Homo sapiens: one gene and its partners. The protein of the gene in region 2 purifies or fractionates together with the protein of the main gene of each other region. This does not show direct contact. Each region holds a gene or a part of one and is shown on either strand. Other genes may lie near its edges. The genes, in order: WDR73, SLC2A14, EPN1 and SMAP2.

What was found.
Region 1: the proteins of SLC2A14 (region 2) and WDR73 purify together in Homo sapiens (affinity purification with mass spectrometry; 2 studies listed by BioGRID and IntAct, with this or other methods). This does not show direct contact.
Region 3: the proteins of SLC2A14 (region 2) and EPN1 purify together in Homo sapiens (affinity purification with mass spectrometry; 2 studies listed by BioGRID and IntAct, with this or other methods). This does not show direct contact.
Region 4: the proteins of SLC2A14 (region 2) and SMAP2 purify together in Homo sapiens (affinity purification with mass spectrometry; 2 studies listed by BioGRID and IntAct, with this or other methods). This does not show direct contact.

What each region holds. Positions count from the first base shown.
Region 1 is NC_000015.10:84,644,032-84,652,632, forward strand, and holds part of WDR73 (integrator complex assembly factor WDR73), read right to left. Parts: intron 4,595-8,601; coding exon 4,506-4,594; intron 3,924-4,505; coding exon 3,859-3,923; intron 2,318-3,858; coding exon 2,153-2,317; intron 2,055-2,152; exon of another isoform or gene 1,942-2,054; intron 1,806-1,941; coding exon 1,440-1,805; intron 1-1,439. UniProt on the Homo sapiens protein: Component of a multiprotein complex required for the assembly of the RNA endonuclease module of the integrator complex. Associates with INTS9 and INTS11 in the cytoplasm, stabilizing the INTS9-INTS11 heterodimer and blocking the active site of INTS11.
Region 2 is NC_000012.12:7,813,308-7,821,908, forward strand, and holds part of SLC2A14 (solute carrier family 2, facilitated glucose transporter member 14), read right to left. Parts: intron 8,019-8,601; coding exon 7,914-8,018; intron 6,277-7,913; coding exon 6,175-6,276; intron 4,728-6,174; coding exon 4,524-4,727; intron 1,228-4,523; coding exon 1,009-1,227; 3' UTR 1-1,008. UniProt on the Homo sapiens protein: Hexose transporter that can mediate the transport of glucose and dehydroascorbate across the cell membrane.
Region 3 is NC_000019.10:55,705,055-55,710,463, reverse strand, and holds the end of EPN1 (epsin-1), read right to left. Parts: 3' UTR 1,553-5,409; coding exon of another isoform or gene 1,420-1,552; 3' UTR 931-1,419; downstream 1-930. Other genes in the region: NLRP9 (NACHT, LRR and PYD domains-containing protein 9), read left to right, coding at 1,420-1,552. UniProt on the Homo sapiens protein: Binds to membranes enriched in phosphatidylinositol 4,5-bisphosphate (PtdIns(4,5)P2). Modifies membrane curvature and facilitates the formation of clathrin-coated invaginations. Regulates receptor-mediated endocytosis.
Region 4 is NC_000001.11:40,404,077-40,412,677, forward strand, and holds part of SMAP2 (stromal membrane-associated protein 2), read left to right. Parts: intron 1-2,659; coding exon 2,660-2,793; intron 2,794-4,576; coding exon 4,577-4,662; intron 4,663-5,680; coding exon 5,681-5,759; intron 5,760-8,601.

The DNA of each region.
Region 1 (8,601 bases), on a different chromosome or scaffold from region 2:
TGGGGCATGTAACCATGAGCATCCGTTGTGCACCTGTTATGCGTGAGGCTCGAAGGCTAATTCTGGACAAGTATTAGCTCTTTTAATCCTCAGAACTGTATGACACAGATACTGTTATTTTACCCAGGAAACTGAGGCTTAAGAGACTTCTTCAAACCTTTTCAAGTTGCCCCAGAGTCCAGTCCCCTACCTCTGGGTCCCTTTCAGCAGATGGCCTTGTCTCCTACTCGATGGGGGAAACAGAAGCCTTTGGAGAGAAATACCTTCACGTCCCTGCACGATCTAGCTGCACACACACTCATTCCATCCTGCCATCTTCCTGGTACTGAAGAGCCAGCCCCTCTACCTGAGCTTGGCTCTTCTGTTCTTTCTGGATCCTGGCATTTCCAATCATCCTTTCTTGCTCTCTTAATGATTTTTTTCAACCCCCACCTGCCTCGACGGATCCTTCCTGTTGGCTTTTAGATACCCACATTAAGTGCCGCAAGCAACTAGCTACCACCAGACCAGAACCAGGGGCCTGCTGACCTAGCTGGCTTGCTACTTTTTTTTTTTTTTTTTTTTTTGAGACAGAGTCTTGCTCTGTCGCCAGTCTGGAGTGCAGTGGCGTCATCTCAGCTCACTGCAACCTCTGACTCCCGGGTTCAAGCGATTCCCCTGCCTCAGCCTCCCAAGTAGGTGGGACTACAGGCGTGCACCAAAACACCCGGCTAATTTTTTTTATTTTCATAGAGACGGGGTTTCACCATGTTGGCCACGATGGTCTCGATCTCCTGACCTTGTGATCCACCCGCCTCGACCTCCCAAAGTGCTGGGATTATAGGTGTGAGCCACCGCACCCGGCCAACTTGCTACATTTCAAAAGGCAAGTAGGCTGAGAAGTACCCTTGAGGTGCTGTCCCTGCTGCTTTTTTTTTTTTTTTCTTTTTTTTTCTTTTTGAGACAGTCTCGCTCTGTTGCCCAGGCTGGAGTGCAGTGGTGCAATCTCAGCTCACTGCAAGCTCCGCCTCCCAGGTTCACGCCATTCTTCTGCCTCAGCCTCCTAAGTAGCTGGGACTACAGGCGCCTGCCACCATGCCTGGCTAATTTTTTGTATTTTTAGTAGGGACGGGGTTTCACCGTGTTAGCCACTGTCCCCTTTTCTTTCTGACCCAGCCCGATGTCTGTCCCAGTGTCTTACTGTCTGCAGGCCCCTCCACCAACCTGAGACCTGAATTCCTGCTAGGCTAGGAAAGGCCTGCTGCCAATGTGTGGAAGTTTAGTAGCCAGGGTAGGAAAAGGCCTGCCACTGAAGAACCTGGAGAGTTCGAATTTCTCTGTGAGCAACTTTAACTCCTGGAGCCAGGTTTATCATGGTGCTGGAGGCTCCTTCCTGAGCACCCAACAGTCTCCTGGAAGAAAGAGATCAGATAACAAGACGAAATCCTGCTCGGCAGTACCTGAGATGGCCAAGCAATTCTTCAGGCCTGGGGCCCAAGTCACTCGCAGCAGCTCTGGGTCAGGGCTAGGTACGGATACTGGGCACTGGACTGAGCTCACAGGATGGCAGAGATCCCGGGGGTCAAGAAGACAAAGACGCCCATCTGAGCCAAGGCTGGCAATGCTGGGCCCAGGGCCCTGGCCCCAGCTCCCAACTTCAGCACACCATCTCTCTCCACCAGACCCAGGGCCAGGGCTGCGATTCTCCAACGGTGCCCACTTCTGCCGGGTGTCAACAAGCCCCAGCCGGCCTGAAGCACAGCAGAAGGCAAAGGTGTCTGCATCTAGGACCTGCAGGCTACTCAGCTCCTCACTGTCACTGACATCTGGAAGACCGACAGCAAAGGAGACAAGCGGCTGGAGGCAGATGGGTCTGGCAATTTGGCAGGGCTGGCTGGTCACAGGTCCCTTCCCACCAGTCCCAGGCAGAATAAATCACATCTCCCTTCCCACTCATCTCACCATTGTCTGCTCAGCTGGTTGGGTGCTGGTCCCTGGGACTGCCTAATCCTGCCCCAGCATAGGAGCCCTTAGAGGCCAGGGCTTACCTCTTATTCACTGTGTATCCCCAACACCTGGCACAGAGAGTTGAACTCAGTTTTTATAGTGGCTGAGTTGGGCTGGGGGGTGATGCCGGCTGGAGCAGCAAGCAAGGGACAAAGTACCACGGTACCTGAGGTGTACGTGGTCTTCCGGGACTCCAGATCAACGACCTGCAGACTTCGGAGCCTCGCCCCATGGAGGACTCCGGGTGCCAATGTGGAGAAGACGGCCACCCTAGGCCAGAGACTCTCCTCTTTCTCATGCACAGCAATGGTGCTGACAGCTTTAATGACATCTAGGGGAAAACGAAGAGGCCAAAATCCAGAACTTTAATGAAGGTTTGAAACATGACAGGCTGCCAGCTGTCTTCCCCTGTACATTTAGAAGATCAAGGAAGAAAAGGAGCTGCCGGCTGGCAAGAGATGATGTTGAGACATAACTACTCTGGCTTATGTTTACATTTTTGAAACCATCAGAAACATTTCAATTTCTTTATTATTTGTCTTATAAACTGTTTTTTGCAAATGGAAGACAATGCCATCTCAAAACCCAAAAAGCAATTCTGGCTTTTTATACTTTTGTGGAGAACAGGTAGAAGACAAGAAAAGGAATGAACATGCTGCTGATGTCACTTACCCCTTCAGCGACAAGAAACAGGTACAGAATTCATGAACTGATATTATTTCTTCAAAAACATGTTCCATGACCTCGAGTGACTTGCTAAAGCCTAGCAAGTACAGGTCACATTACAGATGTCATTGTCTTGTAAGGTGGACAAGAAAGTCCACATCTTTTTTACACTGAATGGAACATCCTTGGCTTTGAGTCAAGTTTTGTTTTGGTTCTTTTGTTTTTTTGAGACAGAGTCTCACTCTGTTGCCCAGGCTGGAGTCCAGTGGCACAATCTCAGCTCACTGCAGCCTCCGCCTCTCAGGTTCAAGAAATTCTTCTGCCTCAGCCTCCTGAGTAGCTGGAATTACAGATGTGCACCCTCATGCCCAGCTAATTTTTTTGTATTTTTAGTAGAGACGGGGTTTCGCCATGTTGCTCGGGCTGGGCTCAAACTCCTGGTCAGGTGACCCACCTACCTTGGCCTCCCAAAGTGCTGGGATTACAGGCATGAGCCACTGCGCCCAGCCAAGTTTTAGTTTTTATTTGGTTGTCTCCACCTGCTTGGTTAGCAGGGAGGTTCTCCTCTCTGTATTCTACATCTGAGGCTTCTCTTAATATATGCTTAATGCTGCCAAAGAGGTGAGCTCACCTGAGCAGCCTAAGCTCTGCTGTTGCCACTGCCCCTGCCTAGGGAGAGTAGTTCTCTGGATGAACTCAATTCCAGGAGCAGGTTACAGGAAGCTCCATTTGGGGCTTGGATGCCATGCTATGGTTGCTAATTCACCTTGTCTGCATTAAAGTAGATTAATTCCCACCTGGCTCTGAGTCTACTACTACTTTTTTTTTTGGAGACGGAGTTTTGCTCTTGTTGCCCAGGCTGGAGTGCAGTGGCATGATCTCGGCTCACTGTAACCTCCGCCTCCCAGGTTCAAGCAATTCTCCTGCCTCAGTCTCCCCAGTAGCAGGGATTACAGGTGCCTACCACCATGCCCGGCTAATTTTTTGTATTTTTAATAGAGACAGGTTTCACCATGTTGTACAAGGTGGTCTTCAACTCCTGAATTCAAGTGATCCACCCAGCTCAGCCTCCCAAAGTGCTACAATTACAGGCATGAGACTGTCCCCAGCCTGAGTCTCCTTCTTAACTGGCTCAGATTAGGGGACAGGGGTGTATGAGTCACACTTTCCTAGAACCCCAAACCCCATCAAGTCAAATTCACTCACCACTGTCCTCTGCAACCTGCCACACCTGCAGATAACAACCTGGAAGGCCACTGGTAACCAGCAATCTATTCAGAAAAGACAAAATCAGTCCAGACCATGGGGAGCTTATCCACACAGGTCCCTTCCCCTTTCCAGCACACTTAGCTTGGGACTCCACTTCCCATATCAGGACATCTTACTGCAAGATCATCAAGGCCAACCACCCTCATTTCACAGATAAGGAGCAGGCTCAATCAACTTTAGGGAGACTGAGCCCAAGCTTCCATGTGTCATGATGGTCACCTACAGAGGACACAAGTATGGGGCCAAACACAACCTGACCCAGAGACTCTTGGCCTCTCCCAACTGAGCAATTATCACCCAAGAGCAATAGAAGAGCATCTTTCTGTCCCGTATCTATTCCCTGGAGCAACTCCGGTAGAACTGTTACTTACATTAGTCCAAGGGCTCTGGGGGGCTATGAAGCCACAGCAGTGGTTTCTTTGTATTCTAAATCTGTGTGTATCTGTGTGCACACACTTGTGCACTCACATGTGCCTGTGTGCTGAGGGGGTGGGAATGGAGATGAGGAGGCAGAATACCCCCAGGCATTTGCAGCCATCCCATCCCATCCTGTGTGGATGGCTGGATCACAAAATTGACCATACCTGGTATGTGGCACATGCTTTAGATCAAAGATAGACCTGTCTGAAAATCCTCCATGGCGCACTTTGAAATCTCTTTCTGGGAATAAGCCCTAAAATACAAAGGAGTAGCCAATCAGAGCCAGCTCTTCAAATGAACATTTCAGAGGAACTCTAAGTGAGGAGTCAGGTCCTAGCCTGGCAGGAGGCCATGGAAGCCACTCAGCTGGTGAAAGGGCGTTGGTGTCCTGGTATTTGGCAATGTTGGTCTCAGCTGCCTACACGTACAGCTTCCTTTTTCCTTTGCACATCCAAAACCCTTCTCCTAGCCTTTCACTAGCCCCTTTTACTACAGCACAAGCATTATACTCCAGGCCTTCCTAGAGAAGCCAGAGAAGCTTAACAGCTTCATCAAAGAGAGCAATGAACACATCCCCATTTCTCCCTCCATTCTCCCGCTGGAAGTCAGGTGGGTTCCTCTAACGATAAAAATTAACAATTACAACTTATCAGTATTCACTGTGTCAGGCGCAGTGTTTAGGGCTTTATCACATTTAATTCTTACAACCTCCTATGATATAGGTACTATAATTATCCCTATTCTACAAATGACACAACTAAGGCACAAGGAGCTTCAGCCACTTATATAAGGTCATACAAGTATTAAGTTGTGAATTTGAACCAAAGTCTGTCTAACCCAAGTCCACACTGTTAGCCACTAGGCTCTACTATCTCCATGTAAGGAACCAGAGGCAAGGGAAAAGGAGGTGGCCATAGAAGAAACAAGGCAAAGCTGGTGGTGAGCGGGGAGGTTAAATCAGTTCTCACAGCTAGGCTCAGTCTGGGTGAACCCCTGACTCAAGCCTGACTGGAGATGGGGAAGATGAAGAACACTAGGTGCTACCCTATAGCTTCTGTAGCCTCTGGGTTTTATGAGTACAAATTTGGCTTTTTTTTTTTTTTTAACTTTTTTTTGAGACAGAGTCTCACTCTGTAGCCCAGGCTGGAGGGCAGTGGCGTGATCTTGGCTCACTGCAACCTCTGTCTCCCCAGTTTAAGCTATTCTCCTGCCTCAGCCTCCTGAGTAGCTGGGACTACAGGTGTGCACCACCACACCCAGTTAATTTTTGTATTTTTAGTAGAGACAGGGTTTTGCCATGTTGCCCAGGCTGGTCTCGAACTCCCAACCTCAGGTGATCCGCCTGCCTCAGCCTCCCAAAGTGCTGGGATTACAGACATAAGCCACCACACCTGGTCTTTTTTAACTTTTTAAATTTTGTGAAGAGATGGGCTTGCCATGTTGTCCAGGCTGGACTTGAACTCCTAGGCTCAAGCAGTCCACCGCCTCAGCTTCAAAAAGTGCTGGGATTACAGGTGTGAGTCACCATGTCAGTCTACAAACTTGGCATTTTTCCTAAGCTTTCCCTCTTGAGATTATAATTCAGTATGTTTGGGAAGTATGCTAGGAATATGCATTTTAGCCAGCACTCCTAATGGCCCTGGTAGGGTGGTCCTCAGGCTACTTTGATAAAAACTGGGCCACATCTGCATGGGATCTAGCCTCTCCCAGGCTGAACAATGTTTTTCTATGTCCTTGTCTAGCCTCTTAGCCTCTTCTCTTCTAAACAATTAGACTCAACTCCATAACATGGTGAGGCCCTAAGATAAATTTATTTACTTATTTTTGTGAGACGGAGTGTCATGCTGTTACCTAGGCTGGAAGTGCAGTGGTGCCATCTCAGGTCACTGCAACCTCTGCCTCCTGGGTTTAAGGGATTCTCTGGTGCCTCAGCCTCCCCTGAGTAGCTGGGATTAAAGGCATATACCACCACACCCGGCTAATTTTCTTTTTCTTTTTCTTTTTTTTGAGACGGAGTCTCACTCTGTCACCCAGGCTGGATGCAGTGGCTTGATGTTGGCTCACTGCAAGCTCCACCTCCCAGGTTCAAGCAATTCTTCTGCCTCAGCCTCCTGAGTAGCTGGTACTACAGGCGCATGCCACCACACCCGGCTAATTTTTGTATTATTAGTAGAGATGGGGTTTCACCATATTGGCCAGACTGGTCTCGAACTCCTGACCTTGTGATCCGCCCACCTCAGCCTCCCAAAGTGCTGGGATTACAGGTGTGAGCCACGCGCCTGGCCAAATTTGTTTTATTTTTAGTAGAGATGGGGTTTCACCATGTTGGCCAGGCTGGTCTTGAACTTCTGGCCTCTAGTGATCTGCCCACGTTGGTCTCCCGCTCCCAAGGTGCTGGGATTACAGGCATGAGTCACCGCACTCGGATTGTTTCCTATTTCATTAAATAATTTAAAACAAAACAAAATAAAAAAGGCCAAGTGCGGTGGTTCACACCTGGAATCCCAGCACTTTGGGAGGCAGGAGGATTGCTTGAGCTCAGGAGTTTGAGAACAGCTTGGCAAGACCCCGTCCCTACCAAAAAATACAAAAATTAACCAGGTGTGGTGGCACATGCCTGTGGTCCCAACTACTCGGGATGCTGAAGTGGGAGGATGGCTTGAGCCCAGGAGGCAGAGGTTGCAGTGAGCTGAGATCGCGCCACTGCACTCCAGCCTAGGTGACAGAGTGAGACCTCAAAAAAAAAAAAAAATTTTTTTAAGAAGTTTGGGGCCAGGAGTGATGGCTCATGCCAGTAATCCCAGCACTTTGGGAGGCCGAAGCAGGCGGATCACTTGAAGCCAAGCGTTCGAGACCAGCCTGGCCAACACAGTGAAACCTCATCTCTACAAAAAAATTTAACAATTAGCCAAGCATGGTGGCACATGCCTGTAGTCCCAGCTACTTGGGAGGCTGAGGCGGGAGGATCACTTGAGCCTGGGAGGTTTAGACTGTAGTGAGCCAGGGATCGCGCCACTGCACTCCAGCCTGGGTGACAGAGCAAGCCCTTGTCTCAAAACAAAAAGGAATTCAGGAGCAAACACTCAAATTCCTGCCCCCACATGGCCCTTCAAGGTCATCTGCCTGCATGCCTCACTCCTCCCTTGTCCTCTGATGACTAATACCATCCCCTGGACTCCTGATCTATCCTCACCTTCTATTCCTGGAAGCAGGAGCGTGTTCCCTGTGATATTCCCTCATTTTCACCCTCTCCCTCTTCAAGGGTTACTTTCCCATAGCTTCTAACTCTGCTCAAGCCTCTGTGTTTAGGAAACCTTCCCTCAGATCTGTGTTTCCGACTAGTTGCTGCTTTAGCTTCTTCCCTCCCTACATTTCGTGACTCTGCTTCCTCTTCATTTTTAGTCTTTGGGCCTGACCACCACCAGCAAAAATCCTGTAGCAGAGGTCACCAAGAGTTTCCCAATTGCCAGTCTTATGAATGAACTCAATTCCTCATCTGAATGATTTTTTTTTTTGAGATGCAGTCTTGCTGTTGCCCAGGCTGGAGTGCAGTGGCACGATCTCAGCTCACTACAACCTCCGCCTCCCGGGTTCAAGCAATTCTCCTGCCTCAGCCTCCTGAGTAGCTGGGATTACAGGTGTGCGCCACCATGCCTGGCTAATTTTTGTATTTTTAGTAGAGACGGGGTTTCACCATGTTGGTCAGGATGGTCCCGAACTCCTGACCTCATGATCCGCCCAACTCGGCCTCCCAAAGTGCTGGGATTACAGGCGTAAGCCACTGCACCTGGCCTTCAATTCTTCTCTCAATGATTTTATTGGAACTCTAGACAGCTACTAACTCTTTTTTTCTTGAGAAGTTCTCTTCTCTTGGCTTCAGAAACATTGACCTTTTCTGAGATTCCTCTTACCTCAGAGGCTGTTCTTTCTTAGTATTCTTTGGGGAGGGGGGGTGCATCTTCCTGTACTCATCCCTTAAATGTGTTCCCTGAGGTTCCGTCCTCACTATATTCTCCTCACTCCTTATATACCACACATTCACTAGGTGACTTTAATCACTCTACGCATTTCGACCGCCCTCTATATCCTTAATCGCTCCCTAAATCTATTTCTGATAAAGTATAACTGACCTCCTCCTCTGATAGCCCTCTGTAAACCACGAGACATTCTACAGCATTTATCTCTGTGCATATGTGCCTCCCTCTGTTAGACTAGAAGGGCAGGCCTAGCGCTTTCTCTCTTTCTAGTATCCAGGACAAT
Region 2 (8,601 bases):
CCCACTAGATAGGTGGCGGGATTACTTCAAAAGTAATGAGACTACTACAAGGAGTTATTTCGTCCAGTGAGGGGAACAGGCTTTCTAGAAATCACTTTCTCTTCCCTGGACTCCATCCAAAATTAGAACCCATCAACCGCCATTAACTACAATGCCCATATTAGTTAATAATCCTAGATTTCAAGTACTACTACATGTAAACTATTATCTTAAAGATAAAGTTCCAAAGGAAATGAGTAGCTTTATTAAATAGGCATACAACTTTTCTGAGAAATCAAAGAGTTTCCATCTGAAGGACAGAAATTGTTAAGAGGTAATGTACAGACCTCAGGCACCACATCATTTACCCTCCAATAATGAACAACATTTCTCCCTGAATTCTTATTGCACCTTAACCTCTCCAGCATCAAATCTTTTACTCTATAACCTCTCTTTAAACACCTCCCTCTAATCTCAATTTCCTTCTGTTTTTATTATTTGGCAAAATTACACTTAAAAAATAAATATTTATGTAATTAAACCAGAGGATAAGATAAATAAAACTCAAGTTAATTTGCCGCGTAGAGCTGTATGGAAGTGAGGAAGGTGCTCTTACATAAACACCCTCCGGCTTCCACACTCATATGTATCTGCTTCCTGGTAAGTCTGAGGTTGGGGCAACTGCACCTTACTTTTCCTCTCCTATATCCTCTAGTGCGGCAATATCAGAACCCAAGGGAGGAAAAGCTGGCAAAGTTGTCATGTGCCAAGCGGCCAATCCCTCCTGAAATGAAGGTAGGTTCACTCGGTCTCTCCTAAGCAGAAGAGGATGTCCAGGAAATAAAATTTAAAAAGCCATTGAAGATCCAACAAACTGCAGCCTTGGGGTGCTCATGGAGTGCGTGGGATGAGAAAGAAATCAAGTAGCAGCATTCAGAAGCAGTCCTGGGTTCATCCTGATAAAGTCTCTCCCTTGTTGAGGGAGAGGTGGCTTTCCCATGCCGGGAGGGAGGTGGAAGGAGGCATGACTTAGACATTGGTGGTGGTCTCCTTAGCAGGCTCGATGCTGTTCATCCCCATGACGCCGTCCTTCCCAGATCTATCTGCACCGTGTGCCTGCCCTTCAAAGGCCCGTGTGATATCCTCAAAAGTCCTGCCACGGGTCTCAGGGACTTTGAAGAAGGTAAAGGCCAAGAAGGTAATGAGGAAGCCGGTGAAGATAATAAAAACGTAGGCTCCTAAATAGTACTAGTGAAAGGACAGAAAAAAGGAAGGTTGATATAAAAATCTGGTCATTGACAAATACAATTTCCTTCACATTCATATTTCCAATAGGCTTCAAGCTATAACCCTTCCATATTTAATGAAAACATAAAGGTTTCTTCAGAGATTTACTTATGATTCTATTGCTAACTTACTATATTTCTCTGTATTTTTCTTTCTGTCATTTTTTTTCATTAAAGTTAGATGCTTCCAAATGTCTACTGAGTATTTTTGGACTTTTGAGTATTATTATTATTATTATTATTTGGAGATGGAGTCTCACTCTGTCACCCAGGCTGGAGCGCAATGGCAGGATCTCGGCTCACTGCAACCTCCTCCTCTTGGGTTCAAGCGATTCTCCTGTCTCAGCCTCCTGAGTAGCTGGGACTACAGGTGCCCACCAGCACGCCTGGCTAATTTTTGTATTTTTAGCAGAGATGGGGTTTCACCATATTGGCCAGGCTGGTCTCAAACTCCTGACCTTGTAATCTGCCTGCCTTGGCCTCCCAAAGTGCTGGGATTACAGGCGTGAGCCACTGCACCTGGCCTTGAGTATTATTTTTAAAATCTGTGTTGCTGAGCTGGGTGTGGTGGCTCATGCCTGTAATCCCAGCACTTTTAGAGGCTGAGGCAGGTGGATCCCTTGAGGCCAGGAGTTTGAGACCAGCCTGGCCAACATGGCAAAACCCCGTCTCTACTAAAAATACAAAAAAAAAAATTGCTGGGAGTGGTGGCACGTGCCTGTAATCCTAGCTACTCAGGAGGCTGAGGCAAGAGAACCACTTGATCCCAGGAGGCAGAGGTTGCAGTGAGCCGAGAGTGAGCCACTGCATTCCACCGTGGGCAACAAAGTGAGACTCCGTCTCAAATAATAAAAAATGAATGGTTCCCAGTTTTGCCATCCCATTTCAATCTTTTCTGCCGTCATTTTTTTTCTATGTATTGTTGAAAATCTGGTTTATAGCCTTTGATGTCTAATCTTTCATAGCGTCAGTAATTACAGTAGTCCCCAGTTATCCAGTTTTGTTTTGTTTTGTTTTTTTTGAGACGGAGTTTCGCTCTTGTTGCCCAGGCTGGAGTGCAATGGCATGAGCTCCGCTCACAGCATCCTCCGCCTCCCAGGTTCAAGCGATTCTCCTGCCTCAGCCTCCTGAGTAGCTGGGATTACAGGTATGCACCACCAAACCTGGCAAATTTTGTATTTTTAGTAGAGGTGGGGATTTTCCATGTTGGTCAGGCTGGTCTTGCACTCCCAACCTCAGGTGATCCTCTCGCCTTGGTCTCCCAAAGTGCTGGGATTACAGGTGTGAGCCACCGTGCCTGGCCAGTTTTGTTTTTTTTTGTTTTTTTGTTTTTGTTTTTGTTTTTGAGATGGAGTTTTGCTCTTATTGCCCAGGCTTGAGTGCAATGGTGCAAGCTTGGCTCACTGCAACCTCTGCCTCCCATGTTCAAGCAATTCTCCTGCCTCAGCCTCCCAAGTACCTGAGATTACAGGCGCCTGCCACCACACCCAGCTAATTTCTTGAATTTTTATTTTTTATTTTTTTTATTTTTTTTATTTTTTTTGAGACGGAGTCTCGCTCTGTCGCCCAGGCCGGACTGCGGACTGCAGTGGCGCAATCTCGGCTCACTGCAAGCTCCGCTTCCCGGGTTCACGCCATTCTCCTGCCTCAGCCTCCCGAGTAGCTGGGACTACAGGCGCCCGCCACCGCTCCCGGCTAATTTTTTGTATTTTTAGTAGAGACGGGGTTTCACCTTGTTAGCCAGGATGGTCTCGATCTCCTGACCTCATGATCCACCCGCCTCGGCCTCCCAAAGTGCTGGGATTACAGGCGTGAGCCACCGCGCCCGGCCATTTCTTGAATTTTTAGTAGAGACGGGGTTTCTCGATATTGGCCAGGCTGGTCTCGAACTCCTGACCTCATGATCCTCCCACCTCAGCCTCCCAAAGTGCTGGGATTACAGGCGTGAGCCATCTCACCCATCTTCTTTTTTCTTCTTCACAATTTTATGGACAAAAGATATATTCTTAAACTGGGCACCATGGTGCCTGCCTGTAATCCCAGCACTTTGGGAGGCTGAGGTGGGAGGATCACTTGAACCCAGGAGTTTGAGACCAGCCTGGCCAACATAGCAAGCCCCTGTCTCTATTCGTAAATTGTTTTGTTTTGTTTTTGAGATGGAGTCTAGCTCTGTCACCCAGGCTGGAGTGTCATGGCAAGATCTTGGCTCACCACGAACTCCACCTCCTGGTTTCAAGCGATTCTCCTGCCTCAGCCTCCCGAGTAGCTAGGACTACAGGTTTGTGCCACCACGCCTGGCTAATTTTTGTATGTTTAGCAGAGATGGTGTTTCACCAGATGGTCAGGCTAATCTCGAACTCTTGACTGCAAGTGATCCGCCCACCTCCACCTCCCAAAGTCCTAGGATTACCGGCTTTGAGCCACTGCTCCCGGGTGCAATTTAAAACTTATGATTTGTTTATTTCTGGAATTTTCCATTTAATATTTTTAGACTGCAGGTAACTGAAACTGCAGATGAGGAGGGACTACTGTATTACTATTATTATTATATATATTTTTTGAGACGGAGTTTCTGTCTTGTTGCCCAGGCTGGAGTGCAATGGCCCGATCTCAGCTCACCGCAACCTCTGCCTCCTGGGCTCAAGCGATTCTCCTGCCTCAGCCTCCCAAGTAGTTTGGATTACAGGCATGCGCCACCATGCCCGGCTAATTTTGCATTTTTAGTAGAGACAGGGTTTCTCCATGTTGGTCAGAGTGGTCTCTACCTCCCGACCTCAGGTGATCTGCCTGCCTCAGCCGCCCAAAGTGCTGGGATTACAGGAGTGAGCCACCTCGCCCAGCCTGACTACTGTATTATTAAGGTGTATCTTCAATATGTCAGCCTACGTAGGCTGGTTTTAAGATAAGGTGAGTTGGCCGGGCATGGTGGCTCACGCCTGTAATCCCAGCACTTTGGGAGGCCAAGGCGGGCAGATTACCAGGTCAAGAGATCATGACCATCCTGGCCAACATGGGGAAACCCCATCTCTACTAAACATACAAAAATTAGCTGGGCACGGTGGCGGGTGCCTGTAGTCCCAGCTACTCAGGAGGCTGAGGCAGAAGAATCGCTTGTCAGTGAGCTGAGATCGGGCAACTGCACACCAGGGCGAGACTCAGTCTCAAAAATATATATATATATAGATAGATAGATAGATAGATAGATAGACAGATACATAGATAGATACATAGATACATAGATAAGGTGAGTTTACTTACAGCAGCAGAGGGGAAGAGCAATCCGACTAGGAAGTTGGAGGTCCAGTTGGAGCAGCCGGCCACTGCCATCGCAGCTGGGCGGGGGCCCTGGCTGAAGAGTTCGGCCACAATAAACCAGGGAATGGGGCCTGGTCCAATTTCAAAACAGGCCACAAAGACCAAGATAGCCCCAATACAGACAAAGCTCATCCCATTATAGTGATTCTGTAAGAGGAAGGAACACAGAAGATTAAATTTAAAGACAGTGTAACCCAGGATCTAGGTTCCCAGAGGCAACTAATGGCAAGCTCCTCCTGTCCTGACGTACAATACAAAGAGTGGCTGTGGAATCAAAAGGCTTGGATTTATTTTTATTTTTATATTTATTTTTTGAGACGGGGTCTTACTCTGTTGCCCAGGCTAGAGTGCAGTGGTGCTATAACAGCTCACTGCATCATCGACCTCCTGGGCTTAAGCAATCCTCCCACCTCAGCCTCTCAAATAGCTGGGACTTGAGGCATGTGCCACCACACCTGGCTAATTAAACAAAAGGTTTTCGTTGTTTTTTTGGCTGGGCACTGTGGCTCACGCCTATAGTCCCAGCACTTTGGGAGGGTGAAGTGAGTGGATTATTTGAGGTCAGGAGTTGGAGACCAGCCTGGCCAACATGGTGAAACCCTGTCTCTACTAAAAAACACAAAAATTAGCTGGGTGTGGTGGCGCATGCCTGTAATCCCAGCTACCAGGGAGGCTGAGGCAGGAGAATCAATGAAGCCTGGGAGGCAGAGATTGCAGTGAGCCAAGATGGCGACATTGCACTCCCAACTGGGTGACACAGCAAGACCCTGTCTCAAAAAACAAAAAACAAAAACAAAAAAATACTTTTTTTTTTTTTAGAGACAGTTTCTTGCCATGTTGCCTAGGCTGGTCTTGAACTTCTGGGCTCAAGCAATCCTCTCACCTTGGCCTCCCAAAGTGTTAAGATGACAGGAATGAAGCACTGCACCCAGCCAGGCTTGGATTTTTGAATCCCATCTATGTGATCTCATATATGTCACTTTGTACTGAGACCCCGTCATCATCCATAAAGTGTGATTACCTTGATATTATTTTAAGAATTAAATTAGGCAGGGCACAGTGGCTCATGCCTGTAATCCCAGCACTTTGGGAGGCTGAGGCAGGTGGATCACCTGAGGTTGGGAGTTCGAGACCAGTCTGACCAACATGGAGAAACCCTGTCTCTACTAAAAATAAAAAATTAGCTGGGCGTGGAGGTGCATGCCTGTAATCACAGCTACTCGGGAGGCTGATGCAGGAGAATCACTTGAACCCAGGAGGTAGAGGTTGTGGTGAGCTGAGATTGCACCACTGCACTCCAGCCTGGGCAACAAGAGCAAAACTCCGTCTCAAACAAACAAACAAACAAACAAAAGAATTAAATTAGATAACTTATTTTATAAACCATAATAATGTTCTCTAAATGTAAAGATTCTAACAGTTTACCTCCAGTTCTCTGATGACCCATGTTTCTTAAAAACTCTGGGCATCTTGCTTCTCTCCTCTGACTTTATTGACAAACTGCAACCTTAACAACCCACCCCTTGTGTCACAGAAGTCAACTGTAACCTCTCTTCTTTCCCCCTCCCTTTTTTTTCACCCAAAGAGCACTTACCTTTAATAACAAAGAAACAGTCATGAGCGTGGAACAAAAAGCCATCCCTCCAAGGCCTATCATATGCAGAGTCCTTCTTCCTGCCCTTTCCACCAGAAATAGCTGGAAGAAGAATATGACATGAAACTTCAGTTTTCCTTTCCATGAAAACAGCATCTGAGCTACTTGAAATCTGCCTTACCAACAGCAGGACACTTGTTATGGATACCCCTCCTGTGATTTATGATTTTATATACATACATATTGTGTGCCATTCACAGGTCCTGGCTCAAAATCCCCATAGCCCTTGGTAGAGTCTTTTGTCATAATGTTGGGATGCTTCAGGCCTCAGGAGCAGGCCTCAGATAACAGAATTCTTCTCTGACTTTCTCCTGCCCTCCCACTTGGCAGGACGCTAATCTGACTGTGGGTCATAAAACCCTCATTTCAGAGAGGGTCCTGCCCCACACCCTAGAGGAAGAAACGCTACAGAGAGGCCAACAAATCATCTAAGCAGACAGGCCCAGCTGGGTTCAGATCATTCCCTTTTTGTCCAATCACAGGTCAGAACAGTTGTCCATGCTTCAATCATGGAGAACCAATTAAGTCTGCATAAAAGGCCCAAAAGGTAGGGTATGGGGAGCTTCCAGATATCTGAACCCGTGGAAGCTGACAGGAAGGTCAGCAACAACTCATCTATGTGCTAGGAGTGCACCCCAACCCCACAGAGACAGAAGCTCCCATGCTCAGGATCCCTCCAGACCTCGCCCTGTGAATCTCTTCATCTGGTTGTGTATTTCTGTGCTTTAAAATATCCTTTAAATCAAACTAGGAAACAATTTTCCTGAGTACTGTGAGCCACTGTAGCAAATTAATCAAACCCAAAGAGGATGTCGTGGGAATCCTGATCTACAGCTGGTGAGTCAGAAGCACAGGTAAAACAACCTGGAGCTTGTGACTGGCATCAGGAGTTGGGGGCAGTCTTGGGAAATCGGCCACCAACCTGTGAGCTCTGATGCTATCTCCAGGTAGTGTCAGAATTAAATCACAGGACACCTAGATAGTGTCCACTACGGAACTGATTGCTTACTTGATGGGGACAAATCCTTATATATTTTGGGGGTCACAGAAATCTTCTGTTATTATTGTTGTTTTAGTGTAAAAACAGAGGAATAACAGTTTGAAAGTTTTTCCAAACACCTCTCCTCCAATTCCAAGTTCAAAACATACTGTATAGTCCCTTCTATACTTCCTCTTTTCCCATCCATCCATATTTGCTTGAAGAATGAAGACTACATTCAGCATTGAATGTATCTCTTTTTTCCAAAGGAAAATTAAACAACAGTCCGGGCACGCTGGCTCACACCTGTAATCCCAGTACTTTGGGAGGCCTAGGCAGGTGGATCACCAGAGGTCAGGAGTTCAAGACCAGCCTGGCCAACATGGCGAAACCCCGTCTCTACTAAAAATACAAAAATGAGTTGGGCGTGGTGGCGCACACCTGTATCCGAGCTACTTCGGAAGGCTGAGGCAGGAGAATCACTTGAACCCAGGAGGCTGAGGTTGCAGTGAGCCGAGATTGCACCACTGCACTCCAGCCTGGGCAACAGAGCAAGACTCTGTCTCAAAAAATTTAAAAAAATAAAAATAAATAACAAAAAAGGTGTAACTAAATAACGGTGGAGCCATGCAATCCATCTTTGAACATCTGTAGCAAGGATTCATTTCTCCCCCCAAAATTATCAAACCATCCAACTTACAGAAAGTAAAGTGAAGATAGTATTAACCACACCCGCGCTGATGGTGGCATAGATGGGCTGTTGAACACCTGCATCCTTGAAGATTCCTGTTGAGTAATAGAACACCTAGGAGAAAAGAAAACATGCAGCTTTGATAAAATTCTGCACACCACTTACACAGAACCCTCAAAAAATACTTAAGGCTGAGCGTGGTTGCACAGGCCTGTAATCCCAGCACTTTGGGAGGCCAAGGCAAGCAGATCGCCTGAGGTCAGGAGTTTGAGACCAGCCTGGCCAATATGGTGAAACCCTGTTTCTACTAAAAATATAAAAATTAGCTAGGCATGGTGGCACACACCTGTAGTCCCAGCTACTTGGGAGGCCAGACAGAACAAGACTCTGTCACCATAAAATAAAATTTAAAAAATACTTAAAAGTCCCAGGAGGTAAGAAGTCCTTTTACTACAATTTTTGTTCAATCCTAATATCCCTGAATTATCTTCTGAATCTTATCTCCTTTCTCTTTTTCTTTTTTGACGGAGTCTCAATCTGTCACCCAGGCTGGAGTGCAGTGGCACGATTACAGGCTCCTGCCACCGCGCCCAGCTAATTTTTGTATTTCTTTCTTTTTTTTTTTTTTTTTGAGATGGAGTCTCTCTCTGTTGCCCAGGCTGGAATGCAGTGGCACGATCTCGGCTCACTGCAACCT
Region 3 (5,409 bases), on a different chromosome or scaffold from region 2:
TTTGGGTGGGGACACAGATTCAAACCATATCACGAATGTCTAGGGAGGACCCCAAGTGAAGGGGGCACAGCAAAACATAAAGGCCCTGAGATGGGGCCAGGCCTTGTACCCTGCAGGGCCAGAAGGGAGTCCCGGGGAGCTGTATAGCAGAGAAAGGGAAAAATGAATTCAGAGAGGAGACAGAGACCCAGTCCCCATAGGGACAGGCCAGGTACTTAAGGCCTGCATTATAAAATAATAATAATAATGTCTCCCTTCTCTTCAACCACCATCCCCACACCCAAAACATGTCATCTCCACAGTAGCAAGCATTCAGAGCAGTTATTTCTGGGTAACTTTCTCATAGTGTCGCTGTAGCTGAAAGGAAACTTAGCCATCTTCCCTACCTCTGAAGATTTAAGATAAACTCCTACTTCTCCTGTGTCTAAATGTCTACGAAATTTTGTGACCTGCTAATCCTCCTCAACTTCTTTTTATAATTGGAGATAAAAAGGCATATAACTATGAACACCTGGCAAGAAGGAAGGACACGGGAGAGGGGAGAAGAGAATTGCAAATGTTAGTTATATTCTTTCAGGAAGGCCTATGTTCCAGTCTTACCAATTATTTGTGAACTTATTTTTTATATTTTCCTGATGCTGAGAACATTTAGAAGTTATAAAGAGACAGAGATTCAACGTATAAAGCAAGAACGATAGCTGTTGAGGGAGTAGAAGCCAGGAGGAAGTCGTGTCCAGTAAGCTAAGGGAAAAAATAAACAAGAAAGTGTAATTAACTGTATTCAATGCTAACTGGGTAAGTAGGATAGAATGTATTTAACAAATTGATGTTATTGGTGACTACAAAAACCAGCTTTGTTGAGGTGGGTTCAGGGGACAATGACACGAAAGGAACTGAAAATAGCGAAAACAGACAAGAACGTTTGACATATTTATGGGTGTAGCATGTGCTTTAATTATTTCTTAGAAAATGGGCAGGTTGTAAATGGAAGAGGCTGAATATTGGTAATTGTAGAAGTTGGTGATGGGTACATGAATTCATTATATTAGTGTCTCTGAGAAAAGCTCATGTTTTTTTTTTTTAAGCAAGCACATTATAAGAAGCAATAGATGTGCCAGGGCATATGAACATCAGATGAATGGAAGTTATCCTGTGTTTTTCTTTTTAACTTAAATTCATCTTTTTTGAATTAAATCTTAATTGATACATCCTGTATATGAAATTTCACTTTATGGTATAAATCAGAGGCTTCCTATCCTATAGGAAAGATTCATGCTTGTTTTTCAAATTCAGTACAATTCTCCCAGTGATTTCTAGGAAAGAATAAAGAGGAGAGGAGAGGTAGACATCAGAATGTAGAGAGGCAATACTGTGTAAAAATGAAAAACAAAAAAAAAAACTTTATTTCTATTTTCCCAGGCTGCACAAATCTGGCTTTGATGAAGAAACTCAGAAGATCCTGATGTCTGTGGAAGAAAAAATTCCCCATCTGACCATTTCACATGGACCTTGGATTGACGAGGAATACAAGATCAGGGGTGTGCTCCTCTGATGGGGAACACCCTGAAGTAGTCGTCTCACAAAGGCTTTCCTTGGCCACAGTGGGACCTTCACCTGGCACCTCTATCCTGTAATTGCACATCATGGCAGCAGGGCTGTGATTTCAGAGGTACTCCCTAAGTGTTCTAGCAATATGATTATGGAGTGTGATTCAGTGTACATGCTGATTGTCTTTGCCTCGGTCCTATATCCCCTTGTCTTTAGAAATCCCATCCTGCCTTGTGATATTTAGAAGCACAAGTACGTTAAACAAGTGCTAAACGCTCTGGAAAGCATGGCTTTATTTTCTTAATGGATGTCTTGGTGTGTAGGAGCATGCATTTGTAGGCACCACAATCCGGATACTTCTGACACAGAAGTGATGCTAGAATGTGTCTATAGATTGTATTGCTAGCATCCAGACTTTCTAGTTTGTCCAGATTTCGATTTGATCAATTTTCTTGTCCAATAAAAAAGCATTTCCAAATCTCTACTTATCCTTTTATATATGACACCCCAATAGATTTTTCTAAAAATTCAGTATTATTCAAATATATCTACACTGTTTATATTTCAAAACACAATATTAAACACTTCATTGTCATAATTAAACATTCCCTAGTTCCCTACGGTAAATTGCTGATGCCTTATTGGCCTGGTCTAAAATTTTTATTACAAAACATAAAAGCAAGATGATGCAGAAATTGGATTATATAATCAGTTATCATTAGATTGAAATATAATCTCAGATTCTCCTGAGAATGAGAAATTGTGGACCTACTCTTGGATCTCTTGGCACACTCCTGGATTCTTTGGATATTTGGGAGGCTGAATTTTCTATAATCTTCAATGTAGAGTGCTCGCACTTACTTGCTTAATTTTACTTCCAGGTTTTCCATATGTTTAAGCAATTATGAACTTTTTTGCCCAATTTTCTATTTGCTTTTGGCCTTTTCCCACAACTTTAAAGAATGCTGGCATAGGCCAGGAGTGGTGGCTCACGCCTGTAATTCCAGCACTTTGGGAGGTCCACGCGGGCGGATCACCAGGTCAGGACTTTAAGACCTGTAAACACGAGTTTACACTCAAGACTGGACAAGGGTTTCCATAGGACAAAAGACACCATTGTGTGGGGGATTCCAGTGGAAAGAAGAACCAAGGAGTTTGCCACGGCCATGTGGGTGAGAATCTTGTGTGTGGGCCTCATTTGATGCTCAGTCAAGATGGGAAAGATATTATGGAAGAACAGAATGGCATTGGCCAGAGTCCCCACCCCAGTCTGCAAAGGAAAGATGGTTTTTATGGCCACTTCCCCTATGGTTCTTAGGACATTGTTCTGAAAAGACATGGGGAGGGTTTCCAGGTGGTCTGAACTGAAGAGCTGGCTATGTCTGTGATGAGATCAGCACTCTTAGCTTTTCATCTTGGAAAGTTATTTTGGTCTTTCCTTTACCCGAAATAGAGACACTGTCATATTCCACAGAAGGGGCTCAACATGGAGAACATACCCCTGACACCAGTTTCACATTTGACTGGTTTTTGGGTATTTATTTTCATTTGTTATTTGTTCTTTCTTTTGTTTTAGAGTCAGGGTCTGCTTTTTGGCTCAGTCTGGAGGGCAGTGGTGCCATCATAGCTCACTGCAGCCTTGAACTCCTGGGTTCAAGTGATGCTCCTGCCTCAGCCTCCTGTGTAGCTGGGACCACAGGTGCACACTACCGTTCCTTTTTTTTTTTTTTTGAGAGACAGCCTCACTCTGTTGCTCGCCCAGGCTGGAGTGCAGTGGCACAATCTCGGCTCACTGCAGCCTCCGTCTCCTGGGTTCAAGTGATTCTCCTGTCTCAGCCACCTGAGTAGCTGGGATTTCAGGCATGCGCCACCATGCCCTGCTAGTTTTTGTTTTGGTATTTTTAGTAGAGATGGGGTTTTGCCATGTTGGTCAGGCTGGTCTCAAACTCCTGACCTGAGGTAATCCGCCTGCCTCGGCCTCCCAAAGTGCTGGGATTACAGGCCTGAGCCACCGCGCTCAGCCCATTTAAATATTTTTTAGTATAGACGGGGTCTCACTATGTTTCCCAGGCTGGTCTGGTACTCCTGGCTTCAAGTGATCCTCCCACTTCAGCCTCTCAAACTGCTGGGATTACAGGCACAAGCCATCGCACCTGGCCCATTTACTTTTTTTTTTTAATCTCTCTTTACTATTGTTTTTTAAATCTCTCTTTACTATTGTTTTTTAAATCTCTCCCTTCCCTTCCCCTCTTTTCTTTCTTTCCTTTTCCTTCCCCTTCCCTCCTTTTTCTCTCTTTCCTGCAATGCTGCAATCTTGGCTCACTGCAGCCTCTGCCTCTGGGTTCAAGCGATTCTCCCGCCTTAGCCTACTGAGGAGCTGAGATTACAGGCATCTGCCATCATGCCCGGCTAATTTTTGTATTTTTAGTAGAGACAGGGTTTTGCCATGTCGGCCAGGCTGGTCTCGAACTCCCAACCTCAGGTGATCCACCCGCCTCAGCCTCCCAAAGTGCTAGGATTTCAGACATGAGCCACCACGCCCGGCCCTCTTTCACTTTTCTAAAACAGTACGCCACTGCATTCCAGCCTGGGTGACAGAGCGAAACACGGTCTTTTAAAAAAAAAAAAAAAAGAAGAAGAAAAAGAGAAGAAAGGAAGAAAAGAGGAGGAAAAAGGAGAAGAAAGAGGAGGAAAGGAAGAAAGAAAAATAAAGGAAGAAAGGAGGAGAAAAAGGAGGAAGAGGAAGAAGAAAAGAGAGGAGGAGGAGGAAGAAGAAATCAAAGTTCTCCAGTCTCATAAACCTGCACATGCAGAGAATCTGGAAAAACTAAAGCTGGGTTGTTCCCCAACCAATGGACATTCTATGGTCCCTTTTCTTCCAGATAATAAGGCCTTCTTTGTAACTGCTATGCAGACCTCTGGCTTCCCATCCAGCATACCTGAACTAAGACTTATTTTGTCTTACACTTTATACTCACTGAAAATCAAGAATCCCATGGTGAGCTATGATCACACACTGCAATGCAGCTTTAGTGATAGAGCAAGACCTTGTCTCTAAATATATATATATATCCCACAACACTCTAAATATATATATATATATATATCCCACAACAACAAATATTCCAGCCACAATGTCAGTATGACTGTTGAAGAACCTGACCTTATGATTGACATGTCATTTTCTCGATACTTTCAAGATTTTCTCTACCTTTGGCCTTTATTAACTTGACTCTGATAATGTTCGGGGATACTTTTCTTTTTTCTAAGAAAGGGTCTTGCTCTGTTGTCCATGCTGGAGTGCAATGGTGCGATCTCGGCTCACTGCAACCTCCACCTCCCGGGCTCAAACGATTCTCCCATCTCAGCATCCCGAGTAGCTGGGACTACAGGTGCATGCCACTATGCATGACTAATTTTTGTATTTTTAGTAGAGATGGTGATTTTGTCATGTTGGCCAGGCTGGTCTCGAACTCCTGACCTCAAGTCATCCATTCGCCCCGGCCTCCCAAACTGCTGGAATTACAGGCTCACGCCACTTCATGAAATGTGTTGTAGTGGCTCTGGATTCTGTATCGTTCTGAGAGGTTTTTTTCATTGGTTTGTTTTCGTTTTTGTGTGTTTCCGTAGGCAAAAAAGTTGCCTGGACAGGTTTACAAAACATATCTCCCCATCTCCCTGCAGTCAGCAGCTATCGGTATCTATGCTAAGTTCCTTCAAAGACTCCTAAGAGGTCTCCATGGACCTCTGAAGTTTAATAGTCAATGATTGGGTCAGAGCTTACTCAGAAACCTCAGGCCAGTGAGGCTTCCAACCTCTGCAGCCCAGGCTGAGTGGCTTGAGTAGCACATTCACTGTGTG
Region 4 (8,601 bases), on a different chromosome or scaffold from region 2:
AACAGAGTGAGAGACCCTGTCTGTAAAGAATAAAATGAAATAAAAGTAACTACACCATTTCCCCATGTTTTCAGCCATATAAGTAACATTTGTCTCTTTTATTTTTCTTTTCTCTAATTTCAGAATATTTTATGGAACATGTAGTTATTCACTAATAAATCTAGTGGCTCAAAACTAAAAGAGATTGAGTATCTGGGATATAACTATCACTATATTCACTGGGAAAAGGTTTCACAAGGGATGTCAGGTAGGGATTTGGTGGGGAGAAGAGGCTGTTCTTTGGCTTTTCATGAAAATACAGTTGCCTGTATTTCTGTACTGAGGCCTTGTCAGTGGCTTCAGAGTCACCCCAAGGCTCCAAGTCTTAGCCTTGCATTCCTCAGAAGCAAAAAGACTTTAAGTACGCTGGAGTGGGAGCTGTGACAGTGGCTTAGATGATTGGGAATTGCCTTTTCCCATCTTAAGGCCAGGAAGCAAACAGTGTAACATTTCACAGCTGACTTTTAATTTTTAATGAATGTGTTTGGCTTCTGACTTTGTTAGCAAACAAATACATCTTAACTTGTCTTATGAGTTCTAGACTCTGGAATCTAGAGCAAAGGAAAAGTGCTTTAAGAAACATGAAATATTAACTTGGTGCCATTTTAAATCTTATATAACTTAGATCTTATTGGAGTTCCTTTATGAAAACTGTAACCTAAAATGGATATACCACATGTTAAGAAACCCCATTTACATCAGTTTAGGGTTTTCATTTTGTGTTTGACGTGACACTCTCCCACATGAAACAAGTGTGCGAATCATTTTTGTGTTTATTAGATACATGGCGGACCAACTATGTAAATCCATCTAGGAATGTGAAGGGACTAAATATCTTTTTAGAAGGTAAATCGGAGCTTGTGATAGCAATAAGGTATTGGGATAAAATTTCAGGCGGAGAGCACCACCTGGTGGTAATAAGGAGAATGTGAGCCTTCTGTTGCAGTATTTGCGATAGTAAATAAGTGATATCTTTGTCAAAAAATTACATTCTTATTTGTAATAATCATGAATTCAAATTTCTAAAACTAATTTTCTGCCACACAATTCTAGCATTCCTTCATTAAAACTGCTGTCAAAACCTTCAGGCTGGCCAGGCACAATGGCTCACACCTGTAATCCCAGCACTTCGGGAGGCCAAAGTGGGAGAATTGTTTGAGGACAGGAGTTCAAGACCAGCCTGGGCAACATAGTGAGACCTAGTCTCTACAGTAAATAAAAATATTAGCCAGGCAGGGTGGCACACGCCTATAGTCCCAGCTACTCCAGAGGCTGAGGCAGGAGGATCGCTTGAGCCCAGGAAGACGAGGCTGCAGTGAGCTATGATCGTGCCACAGCACTCCCTGTCCGGGTGACAGCGAGACTGCCTCTAAAAATAAAAATTAAAAAATTAAAAACCTGCTAGCTAACCAAATAATTGTCTGTGTCCTAAAGAACTGAAGTCTTGTGCTCGTTGTCGTTCCAAGCGTAGGCCCTGTTTATCTCTGTAGAAAATCAGTGTCTTTTCACCTCTTTATTGCATCCTCTAATTTTTATATCACACTTATTTTATGTGGTAAATTTCTGCCAAGTGGGATAATGGAGAAGGAAGTATTTCTGATTTTTTAGTAAGTTTTTGGCAGGTTTCATATAAGTCATTTTTCTTTCCTGGGTAAAAATTATGAAGAGGAGTATGATAATTTTTCAGAGTGATTATTAGGATGAGTAACACTGGCAGGGGATGGGAGATTCTGTAACAGTTTTGAATTAAAATTCATATTTGAGATTTCTTTTTTGTTGCTATAAGCATCTTTATTATTTGGCAATCTTGAAACAAGATACTTCAGTAGTTGAGTAAAGTAGGAACATCAGCCTAAGGGGAAAAGATCCTATTAAGTTAATGCGAATGCATATTTTATAGGCCTGGGGTTGGGGGGAAGATAAACACAGTTTCAATTACAGGTTGAGCCATGGACAAGCATGCCATATCTATCTTTTTTCCTGGTAGGAAAACCGAATACAGGCCACCACTAAAAAGTGGTGAATACAGGCCCATCACCACTAAAACGTCTCTTGGGAGAGGACTGTTTATGTAAGGTGCTCGGCCAAATAGAATATGACATGGCTTTGCACTCCTGGGATTTTTCTTAATATAAGTAACAGTCTTATAACATCTGCGTTTCAACACTCATATTAGCAGACACTGTAAAAAAATTGTACCATGCACAAATGCCCACTTATTATATAATTCTTTTTATATTAAATGCCCAGAATTGGCAATCCATAGAGATAAAAAGTAGATTCATAGTTGCCAGGGGCTGGGAGGAAGAGCTGGGAGAAAATGGGTAGTGCCTGCTAATGGGTTTGTGATTTCTTTTGGACTAATGAAAATGTTCTGGAATTAGATAGTAGTAATCATTGCACAACTGTGTGAATATATTAAAAACCACTGTATTGTACACTTAAATTTAAACTAAAGAAAAGCTGACACATGGAGGAATGAGCAGAGTCAATAAACAGGTGGTTATGGTAAAAATTATTTCACTTATGTTCTAGCAGAAATGTCTGATAATCTAATATTGTAGTTTAGGCCTTGAATGTTGTAATTTGTACTTTATTGCCCTGTTCCTGACTTTCACAGGGCCGCGATGGGCCTCTTGGAACATTGGTGTGTTCATCTGCATTCGATGTGCTGGAATCCACAGGAATCTGGGGGTGCACATATCCAGGGTAAAGTCAGTTAACCTCGACCAGTGGACTCAAGAACAGATTCAGGTACTTAGCCCAAGAGTGAGTCAGCTGCTTCCATATATCTATGTAAAAGGAATTCCAGATGAATTTCAGTCAAACCTGGCACAAAGGTGAAGATAAAGGAAAATTTAGTTGTTAAACACTTAACATCAGATTCTTGTACCCTAACAGAAATTTTTATTCTTTCTATTTAAGATACAAGTTATTCTACCTATATTTTACCTCCTTAAAAACAGAAATAGTCTACGGTCTAGGATTCCATGGGCCCACGAAAGTATTAAGAGGGATCTTTGGGTGATTTTCTAAGACTCTTAGCATTTGCAGGTCTAAAATTTATAGTTTCAAATATTCACTTTTGGTCGGGCACGGTGGCTCATGCCTGTAATCCCAGCACTTTGTAAGGCCGAGGTGGGTGGATCTCTTGAGTCTAGGAGTTCAAGACCAGCCTGGGCAACAGAGTGAGACACCTGTCTCTACAAAATAAAGAATTAAAAAATTAGCTGGGCCTGGTGGTACGTACCTGTAATCCCAGCAGTTTGGGAAGCTGAGGTGGGAGGATTGCTTGAGCCCAGAAGTTGAAGCTGCGGTTAGTCATGATCATGCCATTGCACTCTAGCCTGAGCAATAGAGTGAGACCCTGTCTCAAAAAAATAAATAAATAAAAATTCACTTTTTAAAAAAACCTCCAAATCATAGACTTATGGGAAAATTTTATTACTAAAATGCATACATGAATCTTTTTTTTAAGACAGAGAAAATATTTTAATGGTACATAATATTAAAATGTATCCATTTTTGTAAACTCATCATTTCTGATATTTTTAGACACATACAAATGTGGAATTAGATAACATTTAAAATTTCAAAAATTTTAAATAAATTTAAACATAATTAACCTTAAAAGTATATTAAATAGGACAATGTGTATATTAGATTTATTGTTATCATCTTTAAAAAGCTGTAACAGCTGGAATGCATACATGAATCTTGCATGCTGTTAGCTTGGTGGGCTTGGAGTGAGACTCCTAAGTTAATGAGTCTGGCTGGCCTAAGAGCTGTACCTTGATATAGCTTCATTATTTTTTATTCTCTTCCTACATTGAAACGCTTTAATTTCAATTTTTTCTTTCTTGGGAGTAAAAGGGAAGCCCCCCGCCCCCCAAATCCAGTTGCTAAAGTTGGTAATGGAAATCAGAGGTTACGCTTAACCAGAAAATGGCTTTAGAAATTGCTTTAGATTGTATTTATAGATGTATTAAAGGTCTAAAAAGGTGAGTTACATTTTTCAGTTACACTTCACTCTGTTTTATGAAGGAAATTATATGCCATGGAGATAGTCGGGAATTTGGAGATTTAAAAAGCTCTTGGGATTTATCCCTCACAAGTGTTAAGGAGTCTACTTAAAAGCCTAATGGGAAACACATTTATTGGAATTGATTAATAGTATAAACTCAGAATGATAACACTGATCATTGCCTGCCAAGTAGACATTTTAATTGGTAGCTGTGTATCTAAGAGTTTCAAATGAGATCTTGATTTATTACTGAATTGAATGTATCTTGGTACACAAATATTTCAGTAAAAGGAACCTATGGAGTGGGGGAAAGACAGCTTGGGGCAAATGATTGGGAAATCCTAGTAAGGTAGAGGGAATCATGAATTGGAAATCAGAATACACAAGTTTAAATGTTGGTTCTGACACTCTCTAGGTTGGTTCTTCAATTGTACAGTAGTGGAATTGGGTGAGAAGTTTTTCAGTTCTTTCTTGATCTGACGTTCCATGTTTCTACATTCTCTTTGGTCACAGTGCATGCAAGAGATGGGAAATGGAAAGGCAAACCGACTTTATGAAGCCTATCTTCCTGAGACCTTTCGGCGACCTCAGATAGACCCGTATCTTTTCTGGAGCAACTTAGAAGGCTGAGTGGTATTTTGATGCTTGGGGAGAGTCAGACAAGACTCCAGTCCTGTAATGTGACTGGGTCATCTCTATGTGGATTAGTCAGTGTCCTTGCTTGTCCTCTGTCCTGCAATCAAGGTGCACAAAAAGCACATGTATTTGTGAATGTCGGAATTGTCATACGGTGTCACTTGAAGAAGACTCACTCTGGAATTAAGACTGCAGTGATTTCACTGTGAATTCTTCTATAAAGTTACATCTCCACTAGTTTATTTTGGATCTCTGAAACTATTGTTTGATTAAAAAGAGTAGTTCATTGTGCTCTGTTAACCCTGGCAGTCAGCAAAATTGCCATTCATTTTTATCATCTTTTTATGTCTTGGGTGAAAGAATTAACTGTTGTTTACCAGTTTGTCAATAACCAATAACTTTCTTCCACCATCTGTTCAACAGAGCATAGCACCTAGGACACAAAACCAAATCCCTTAAAGGCAGTGCTTCTCAAAATGTAGTTTGTAGATCATCTTGTTAAGGTTCTTTTTTTTTTAATGGGTTCAGGTGGAACCTGTTAAATGCAGATTTGGGGCCTTGCAGAAGACCCACTGGTCAGAATTTGGCAGTGGGGCACAAGAGTTTATGTTTTTAAGGGGCACTTACGTGCCTTTGTTTGAGGCCTATTGACCTAAGTGCTTTAAAATAGACATTTGACTGCTTTACCTATATTCTAGAACAGCCACATACAGCCTCTAATGTCAGTTTGAAGGTTAATTCCACTTGCTGCTATCATCACGCTGAAGGGAAAGCATAGGAAGTAATGATTCCCTGCTTTAACTGTGAAAGAGGCATTTTAAGGTTTTGGTCAGAGAAATTGCATATGAAGAGGCAGGAGCCATGTGGGGAAACCAGGCAAGAGGGAAGGAGGAGAACAATGCTCCGTGGAACACAATTGATCTTTTATCTTCTTGCTGTTTGAGAGGCTTGTTGGATTCATCCTTAATAAGCTTTTTGCAGAGCTGTTGAAGGATTTATTCGAGACAAATATGAGAAGAAGAAATACATGGACCGAAGTCTGGACATCAATGCCTTTAGGGTTGGTTATACATCTTTCAAGTTTTGTCCACAATAAGTAATGTGCTTATTAAATCAGGCCAGAGAACACGTTGAAGAACTGCTACCAAAACACTCCAAAACCATCTTTTAAAAAATGCAAAAGTAGACCAGGTGTGGTGGCTCATCCCCTAATCCCATCACTTTGGGAGGCTGAGGTGGGAGGATCACTTGAACCTAGAAGTTTAAGACCAGCCTGGGCAACAAAGAAAGACCCCCATCTCTACAAAAAATTTAAAAATTAGCCAGGCATGGTGGTATACATGCCTGTAATAACCAGCTACTTGGGAGGCTGAGGTCGGAGGATTACGTGAGCCAGGGAGGTTGAGGCTGCAGTGAGCTGTGATTGCACCACTTCATTCCAGTCTAGGCAACGGAGTTTGACCCTGTCTCAATATAAATTTTTAAGCAAAAGTAAAAAGTGCCAGTTACTGAGTCAAGACCATGAGGCAGAAACAAACTTCTGCCTATCGGTGAATTCTTGCCTTAATCTGTAGTTAGAAGGTGTTAGTGATGATTCCCAGTTTTGAATTATTTCTTGGGATGGACATGTTGCATATACTAGATCAAATAAAACAGTATATGTGTATATGTACTACAGCTATATCTATCTACATAGATATATACACACATATATACTTTTTTCCTGTAAATGAAATCAACAAAAGTAGGTGTAATTAAATCACCAGAGTTTCCTTCAGTTTGACCAATGTATATTTCCAGCATTACCTGCTGATAACCAGTGTGTTGGACTGATTGCCAATGGGACCCTTGTTTCTGAGAAGGGTTTCAGAGGGAGACTGGCTACCAGTTGCCAAGAACACATTCCATCCTAGGCATGTTTAGAATCTGCAATACAGTATATGATAACTAGGACAAATATAACACACAGGGGGACAGACAGCATGATTTCTGAAAGAGGAAAATATGCCTAACTAATGACAGCTAATGGAGAACCAATAGATATGACTATTTATACCTTTAAATAACCTTTGACAAGATTCTACAGAAAATTCTCTTAGGAATAATTGGCTATTTATCTAGTCACAGAAGTATTGAGAGTAAGGGATTCTCCACTTCCAGCGCAGGTCCTACCTATCTATCATCTATTCTAGTTATGTAATAATGATATAATAGCCAGTGAAATCACTGTTTGCACTGAGCTCCAAGCCCTTCTGGGTAATTAAAAGTTAAGCTAATTGGAATCCACTTCAGGCTGATCTTATGAAGCTGTGTGAAAGGGGCATTAACTGGTAGGTGAATTTCAACACAGGCAAGTAAGTGTAATACATATAGTTAGGTAAAAATGATTCCTTCTCAACTGTGTATGAAGGACTCTTACCTTGCAGTTATCCAGAAAAGGGACTTGTCAATATCATATCTGTGCCAAGAAAGAACCCAGTGTGCAGCTACAGCTTGCATGGCATCATCAAAAACAGTTTAGAACCCAAGCATACACATTTCGTTTTATTTGTAGAAAACTGTGGTCTGTCTGCCCAGCTCTGTTCATTGTGCCTAAAGATATGAACTCAGATGAGGTCAGAAAAGGGTATCTGAGATAATTCAGATGACGAAGGAGTAGAGTTGCTATTTGTACACAGCTATTGTGGAAACAGCAGCTCTGCCCTCAGGGTATTCATGATTTCATTGCTGGTATACTGTACCCATGAAAGCAAGCCCGGTTACCGGATGTTTCTCTTAGGAAGGAAATAACCTCCCATTTACCAAAAAGCTATTTCAGAATTTGTTATTTAATGTACTTAGATTTTTTTCATATTTTGTGAAGATTTTTATGCCAATAATTAGTATTTGCTAAGTGAAGACGTTTAATATCAAATGAAAAGAAACTGGCTTTGTTAAAAACTATTCTTTTTATAATGGACAGATAAAACATTTTTAACTTAAATGAAATGTCGTGTTAAAGACATACACTTTGTATGAGAAAAACAGCTGCATGTATTGATTATAAAATTATTTTAGAGAAAATGAAAATTAAAGTGAAATATCCATACATACTCTCACTATCTTTGCTAATAATTATCTTCTTGGTGTGTTCCCCTTTTTTTCTAAATAGTTTCTTTTTGGAGGCATAATTATAATACAGTTATGTAGACTTCTCGTGCCTTCATTCCACTTAACATATATTTCTGTGTTGCTTATATAGTGTTTATAATTTTTAATTGTTGCATCATCTTTCAGTGAGTAGCTAAATCACTGAAAGTAATAATTTATTTACCATTTCCCTTCTGTGGCATAAATGTTATTTAATTTTTTTTAGCATAAATAATTCTGGGGTGAACTTGGTGCATTTAACCTTTTTCATATTTTGGACTATTTTCGTAAGATACATTACAAGATATGGTATCATCTAGGTCAAAGGATTTCAACATTTGTCTCTTCCTAGTTTTGCCAATATACTTTCCAGAATTTGTACCATTTTACTCTCTCTTCTCAGCATTGTATAAGAGTACTGGTTTCACTTCATCCCTCCCACCATTATAGAAAGATCTTTCTCCCTGCATAAAGTGCATTTTAAATTGCATTTTTTATCACTGGCAAGACCAAACATGTTTTTCATATGTATGCTATACTCTGTATTCTTAAGGTTACTTTGTGGTTTTGTTTTACATTTAGATGTTTATTTGATTTTAAAACTTAATTTTTGTTCTTCTAATCTGTAAACTTGAAATTAAGGTTTATTTTCTGACTGTTAAAAAAATGAATATTGAGAGGACCTATGATTGAATTTATGATATCACAAAGGACATAAGCTGAGTAAGATGAACTTATTCACTAGTATACTGATATGAGGGGAGACCTCTCAA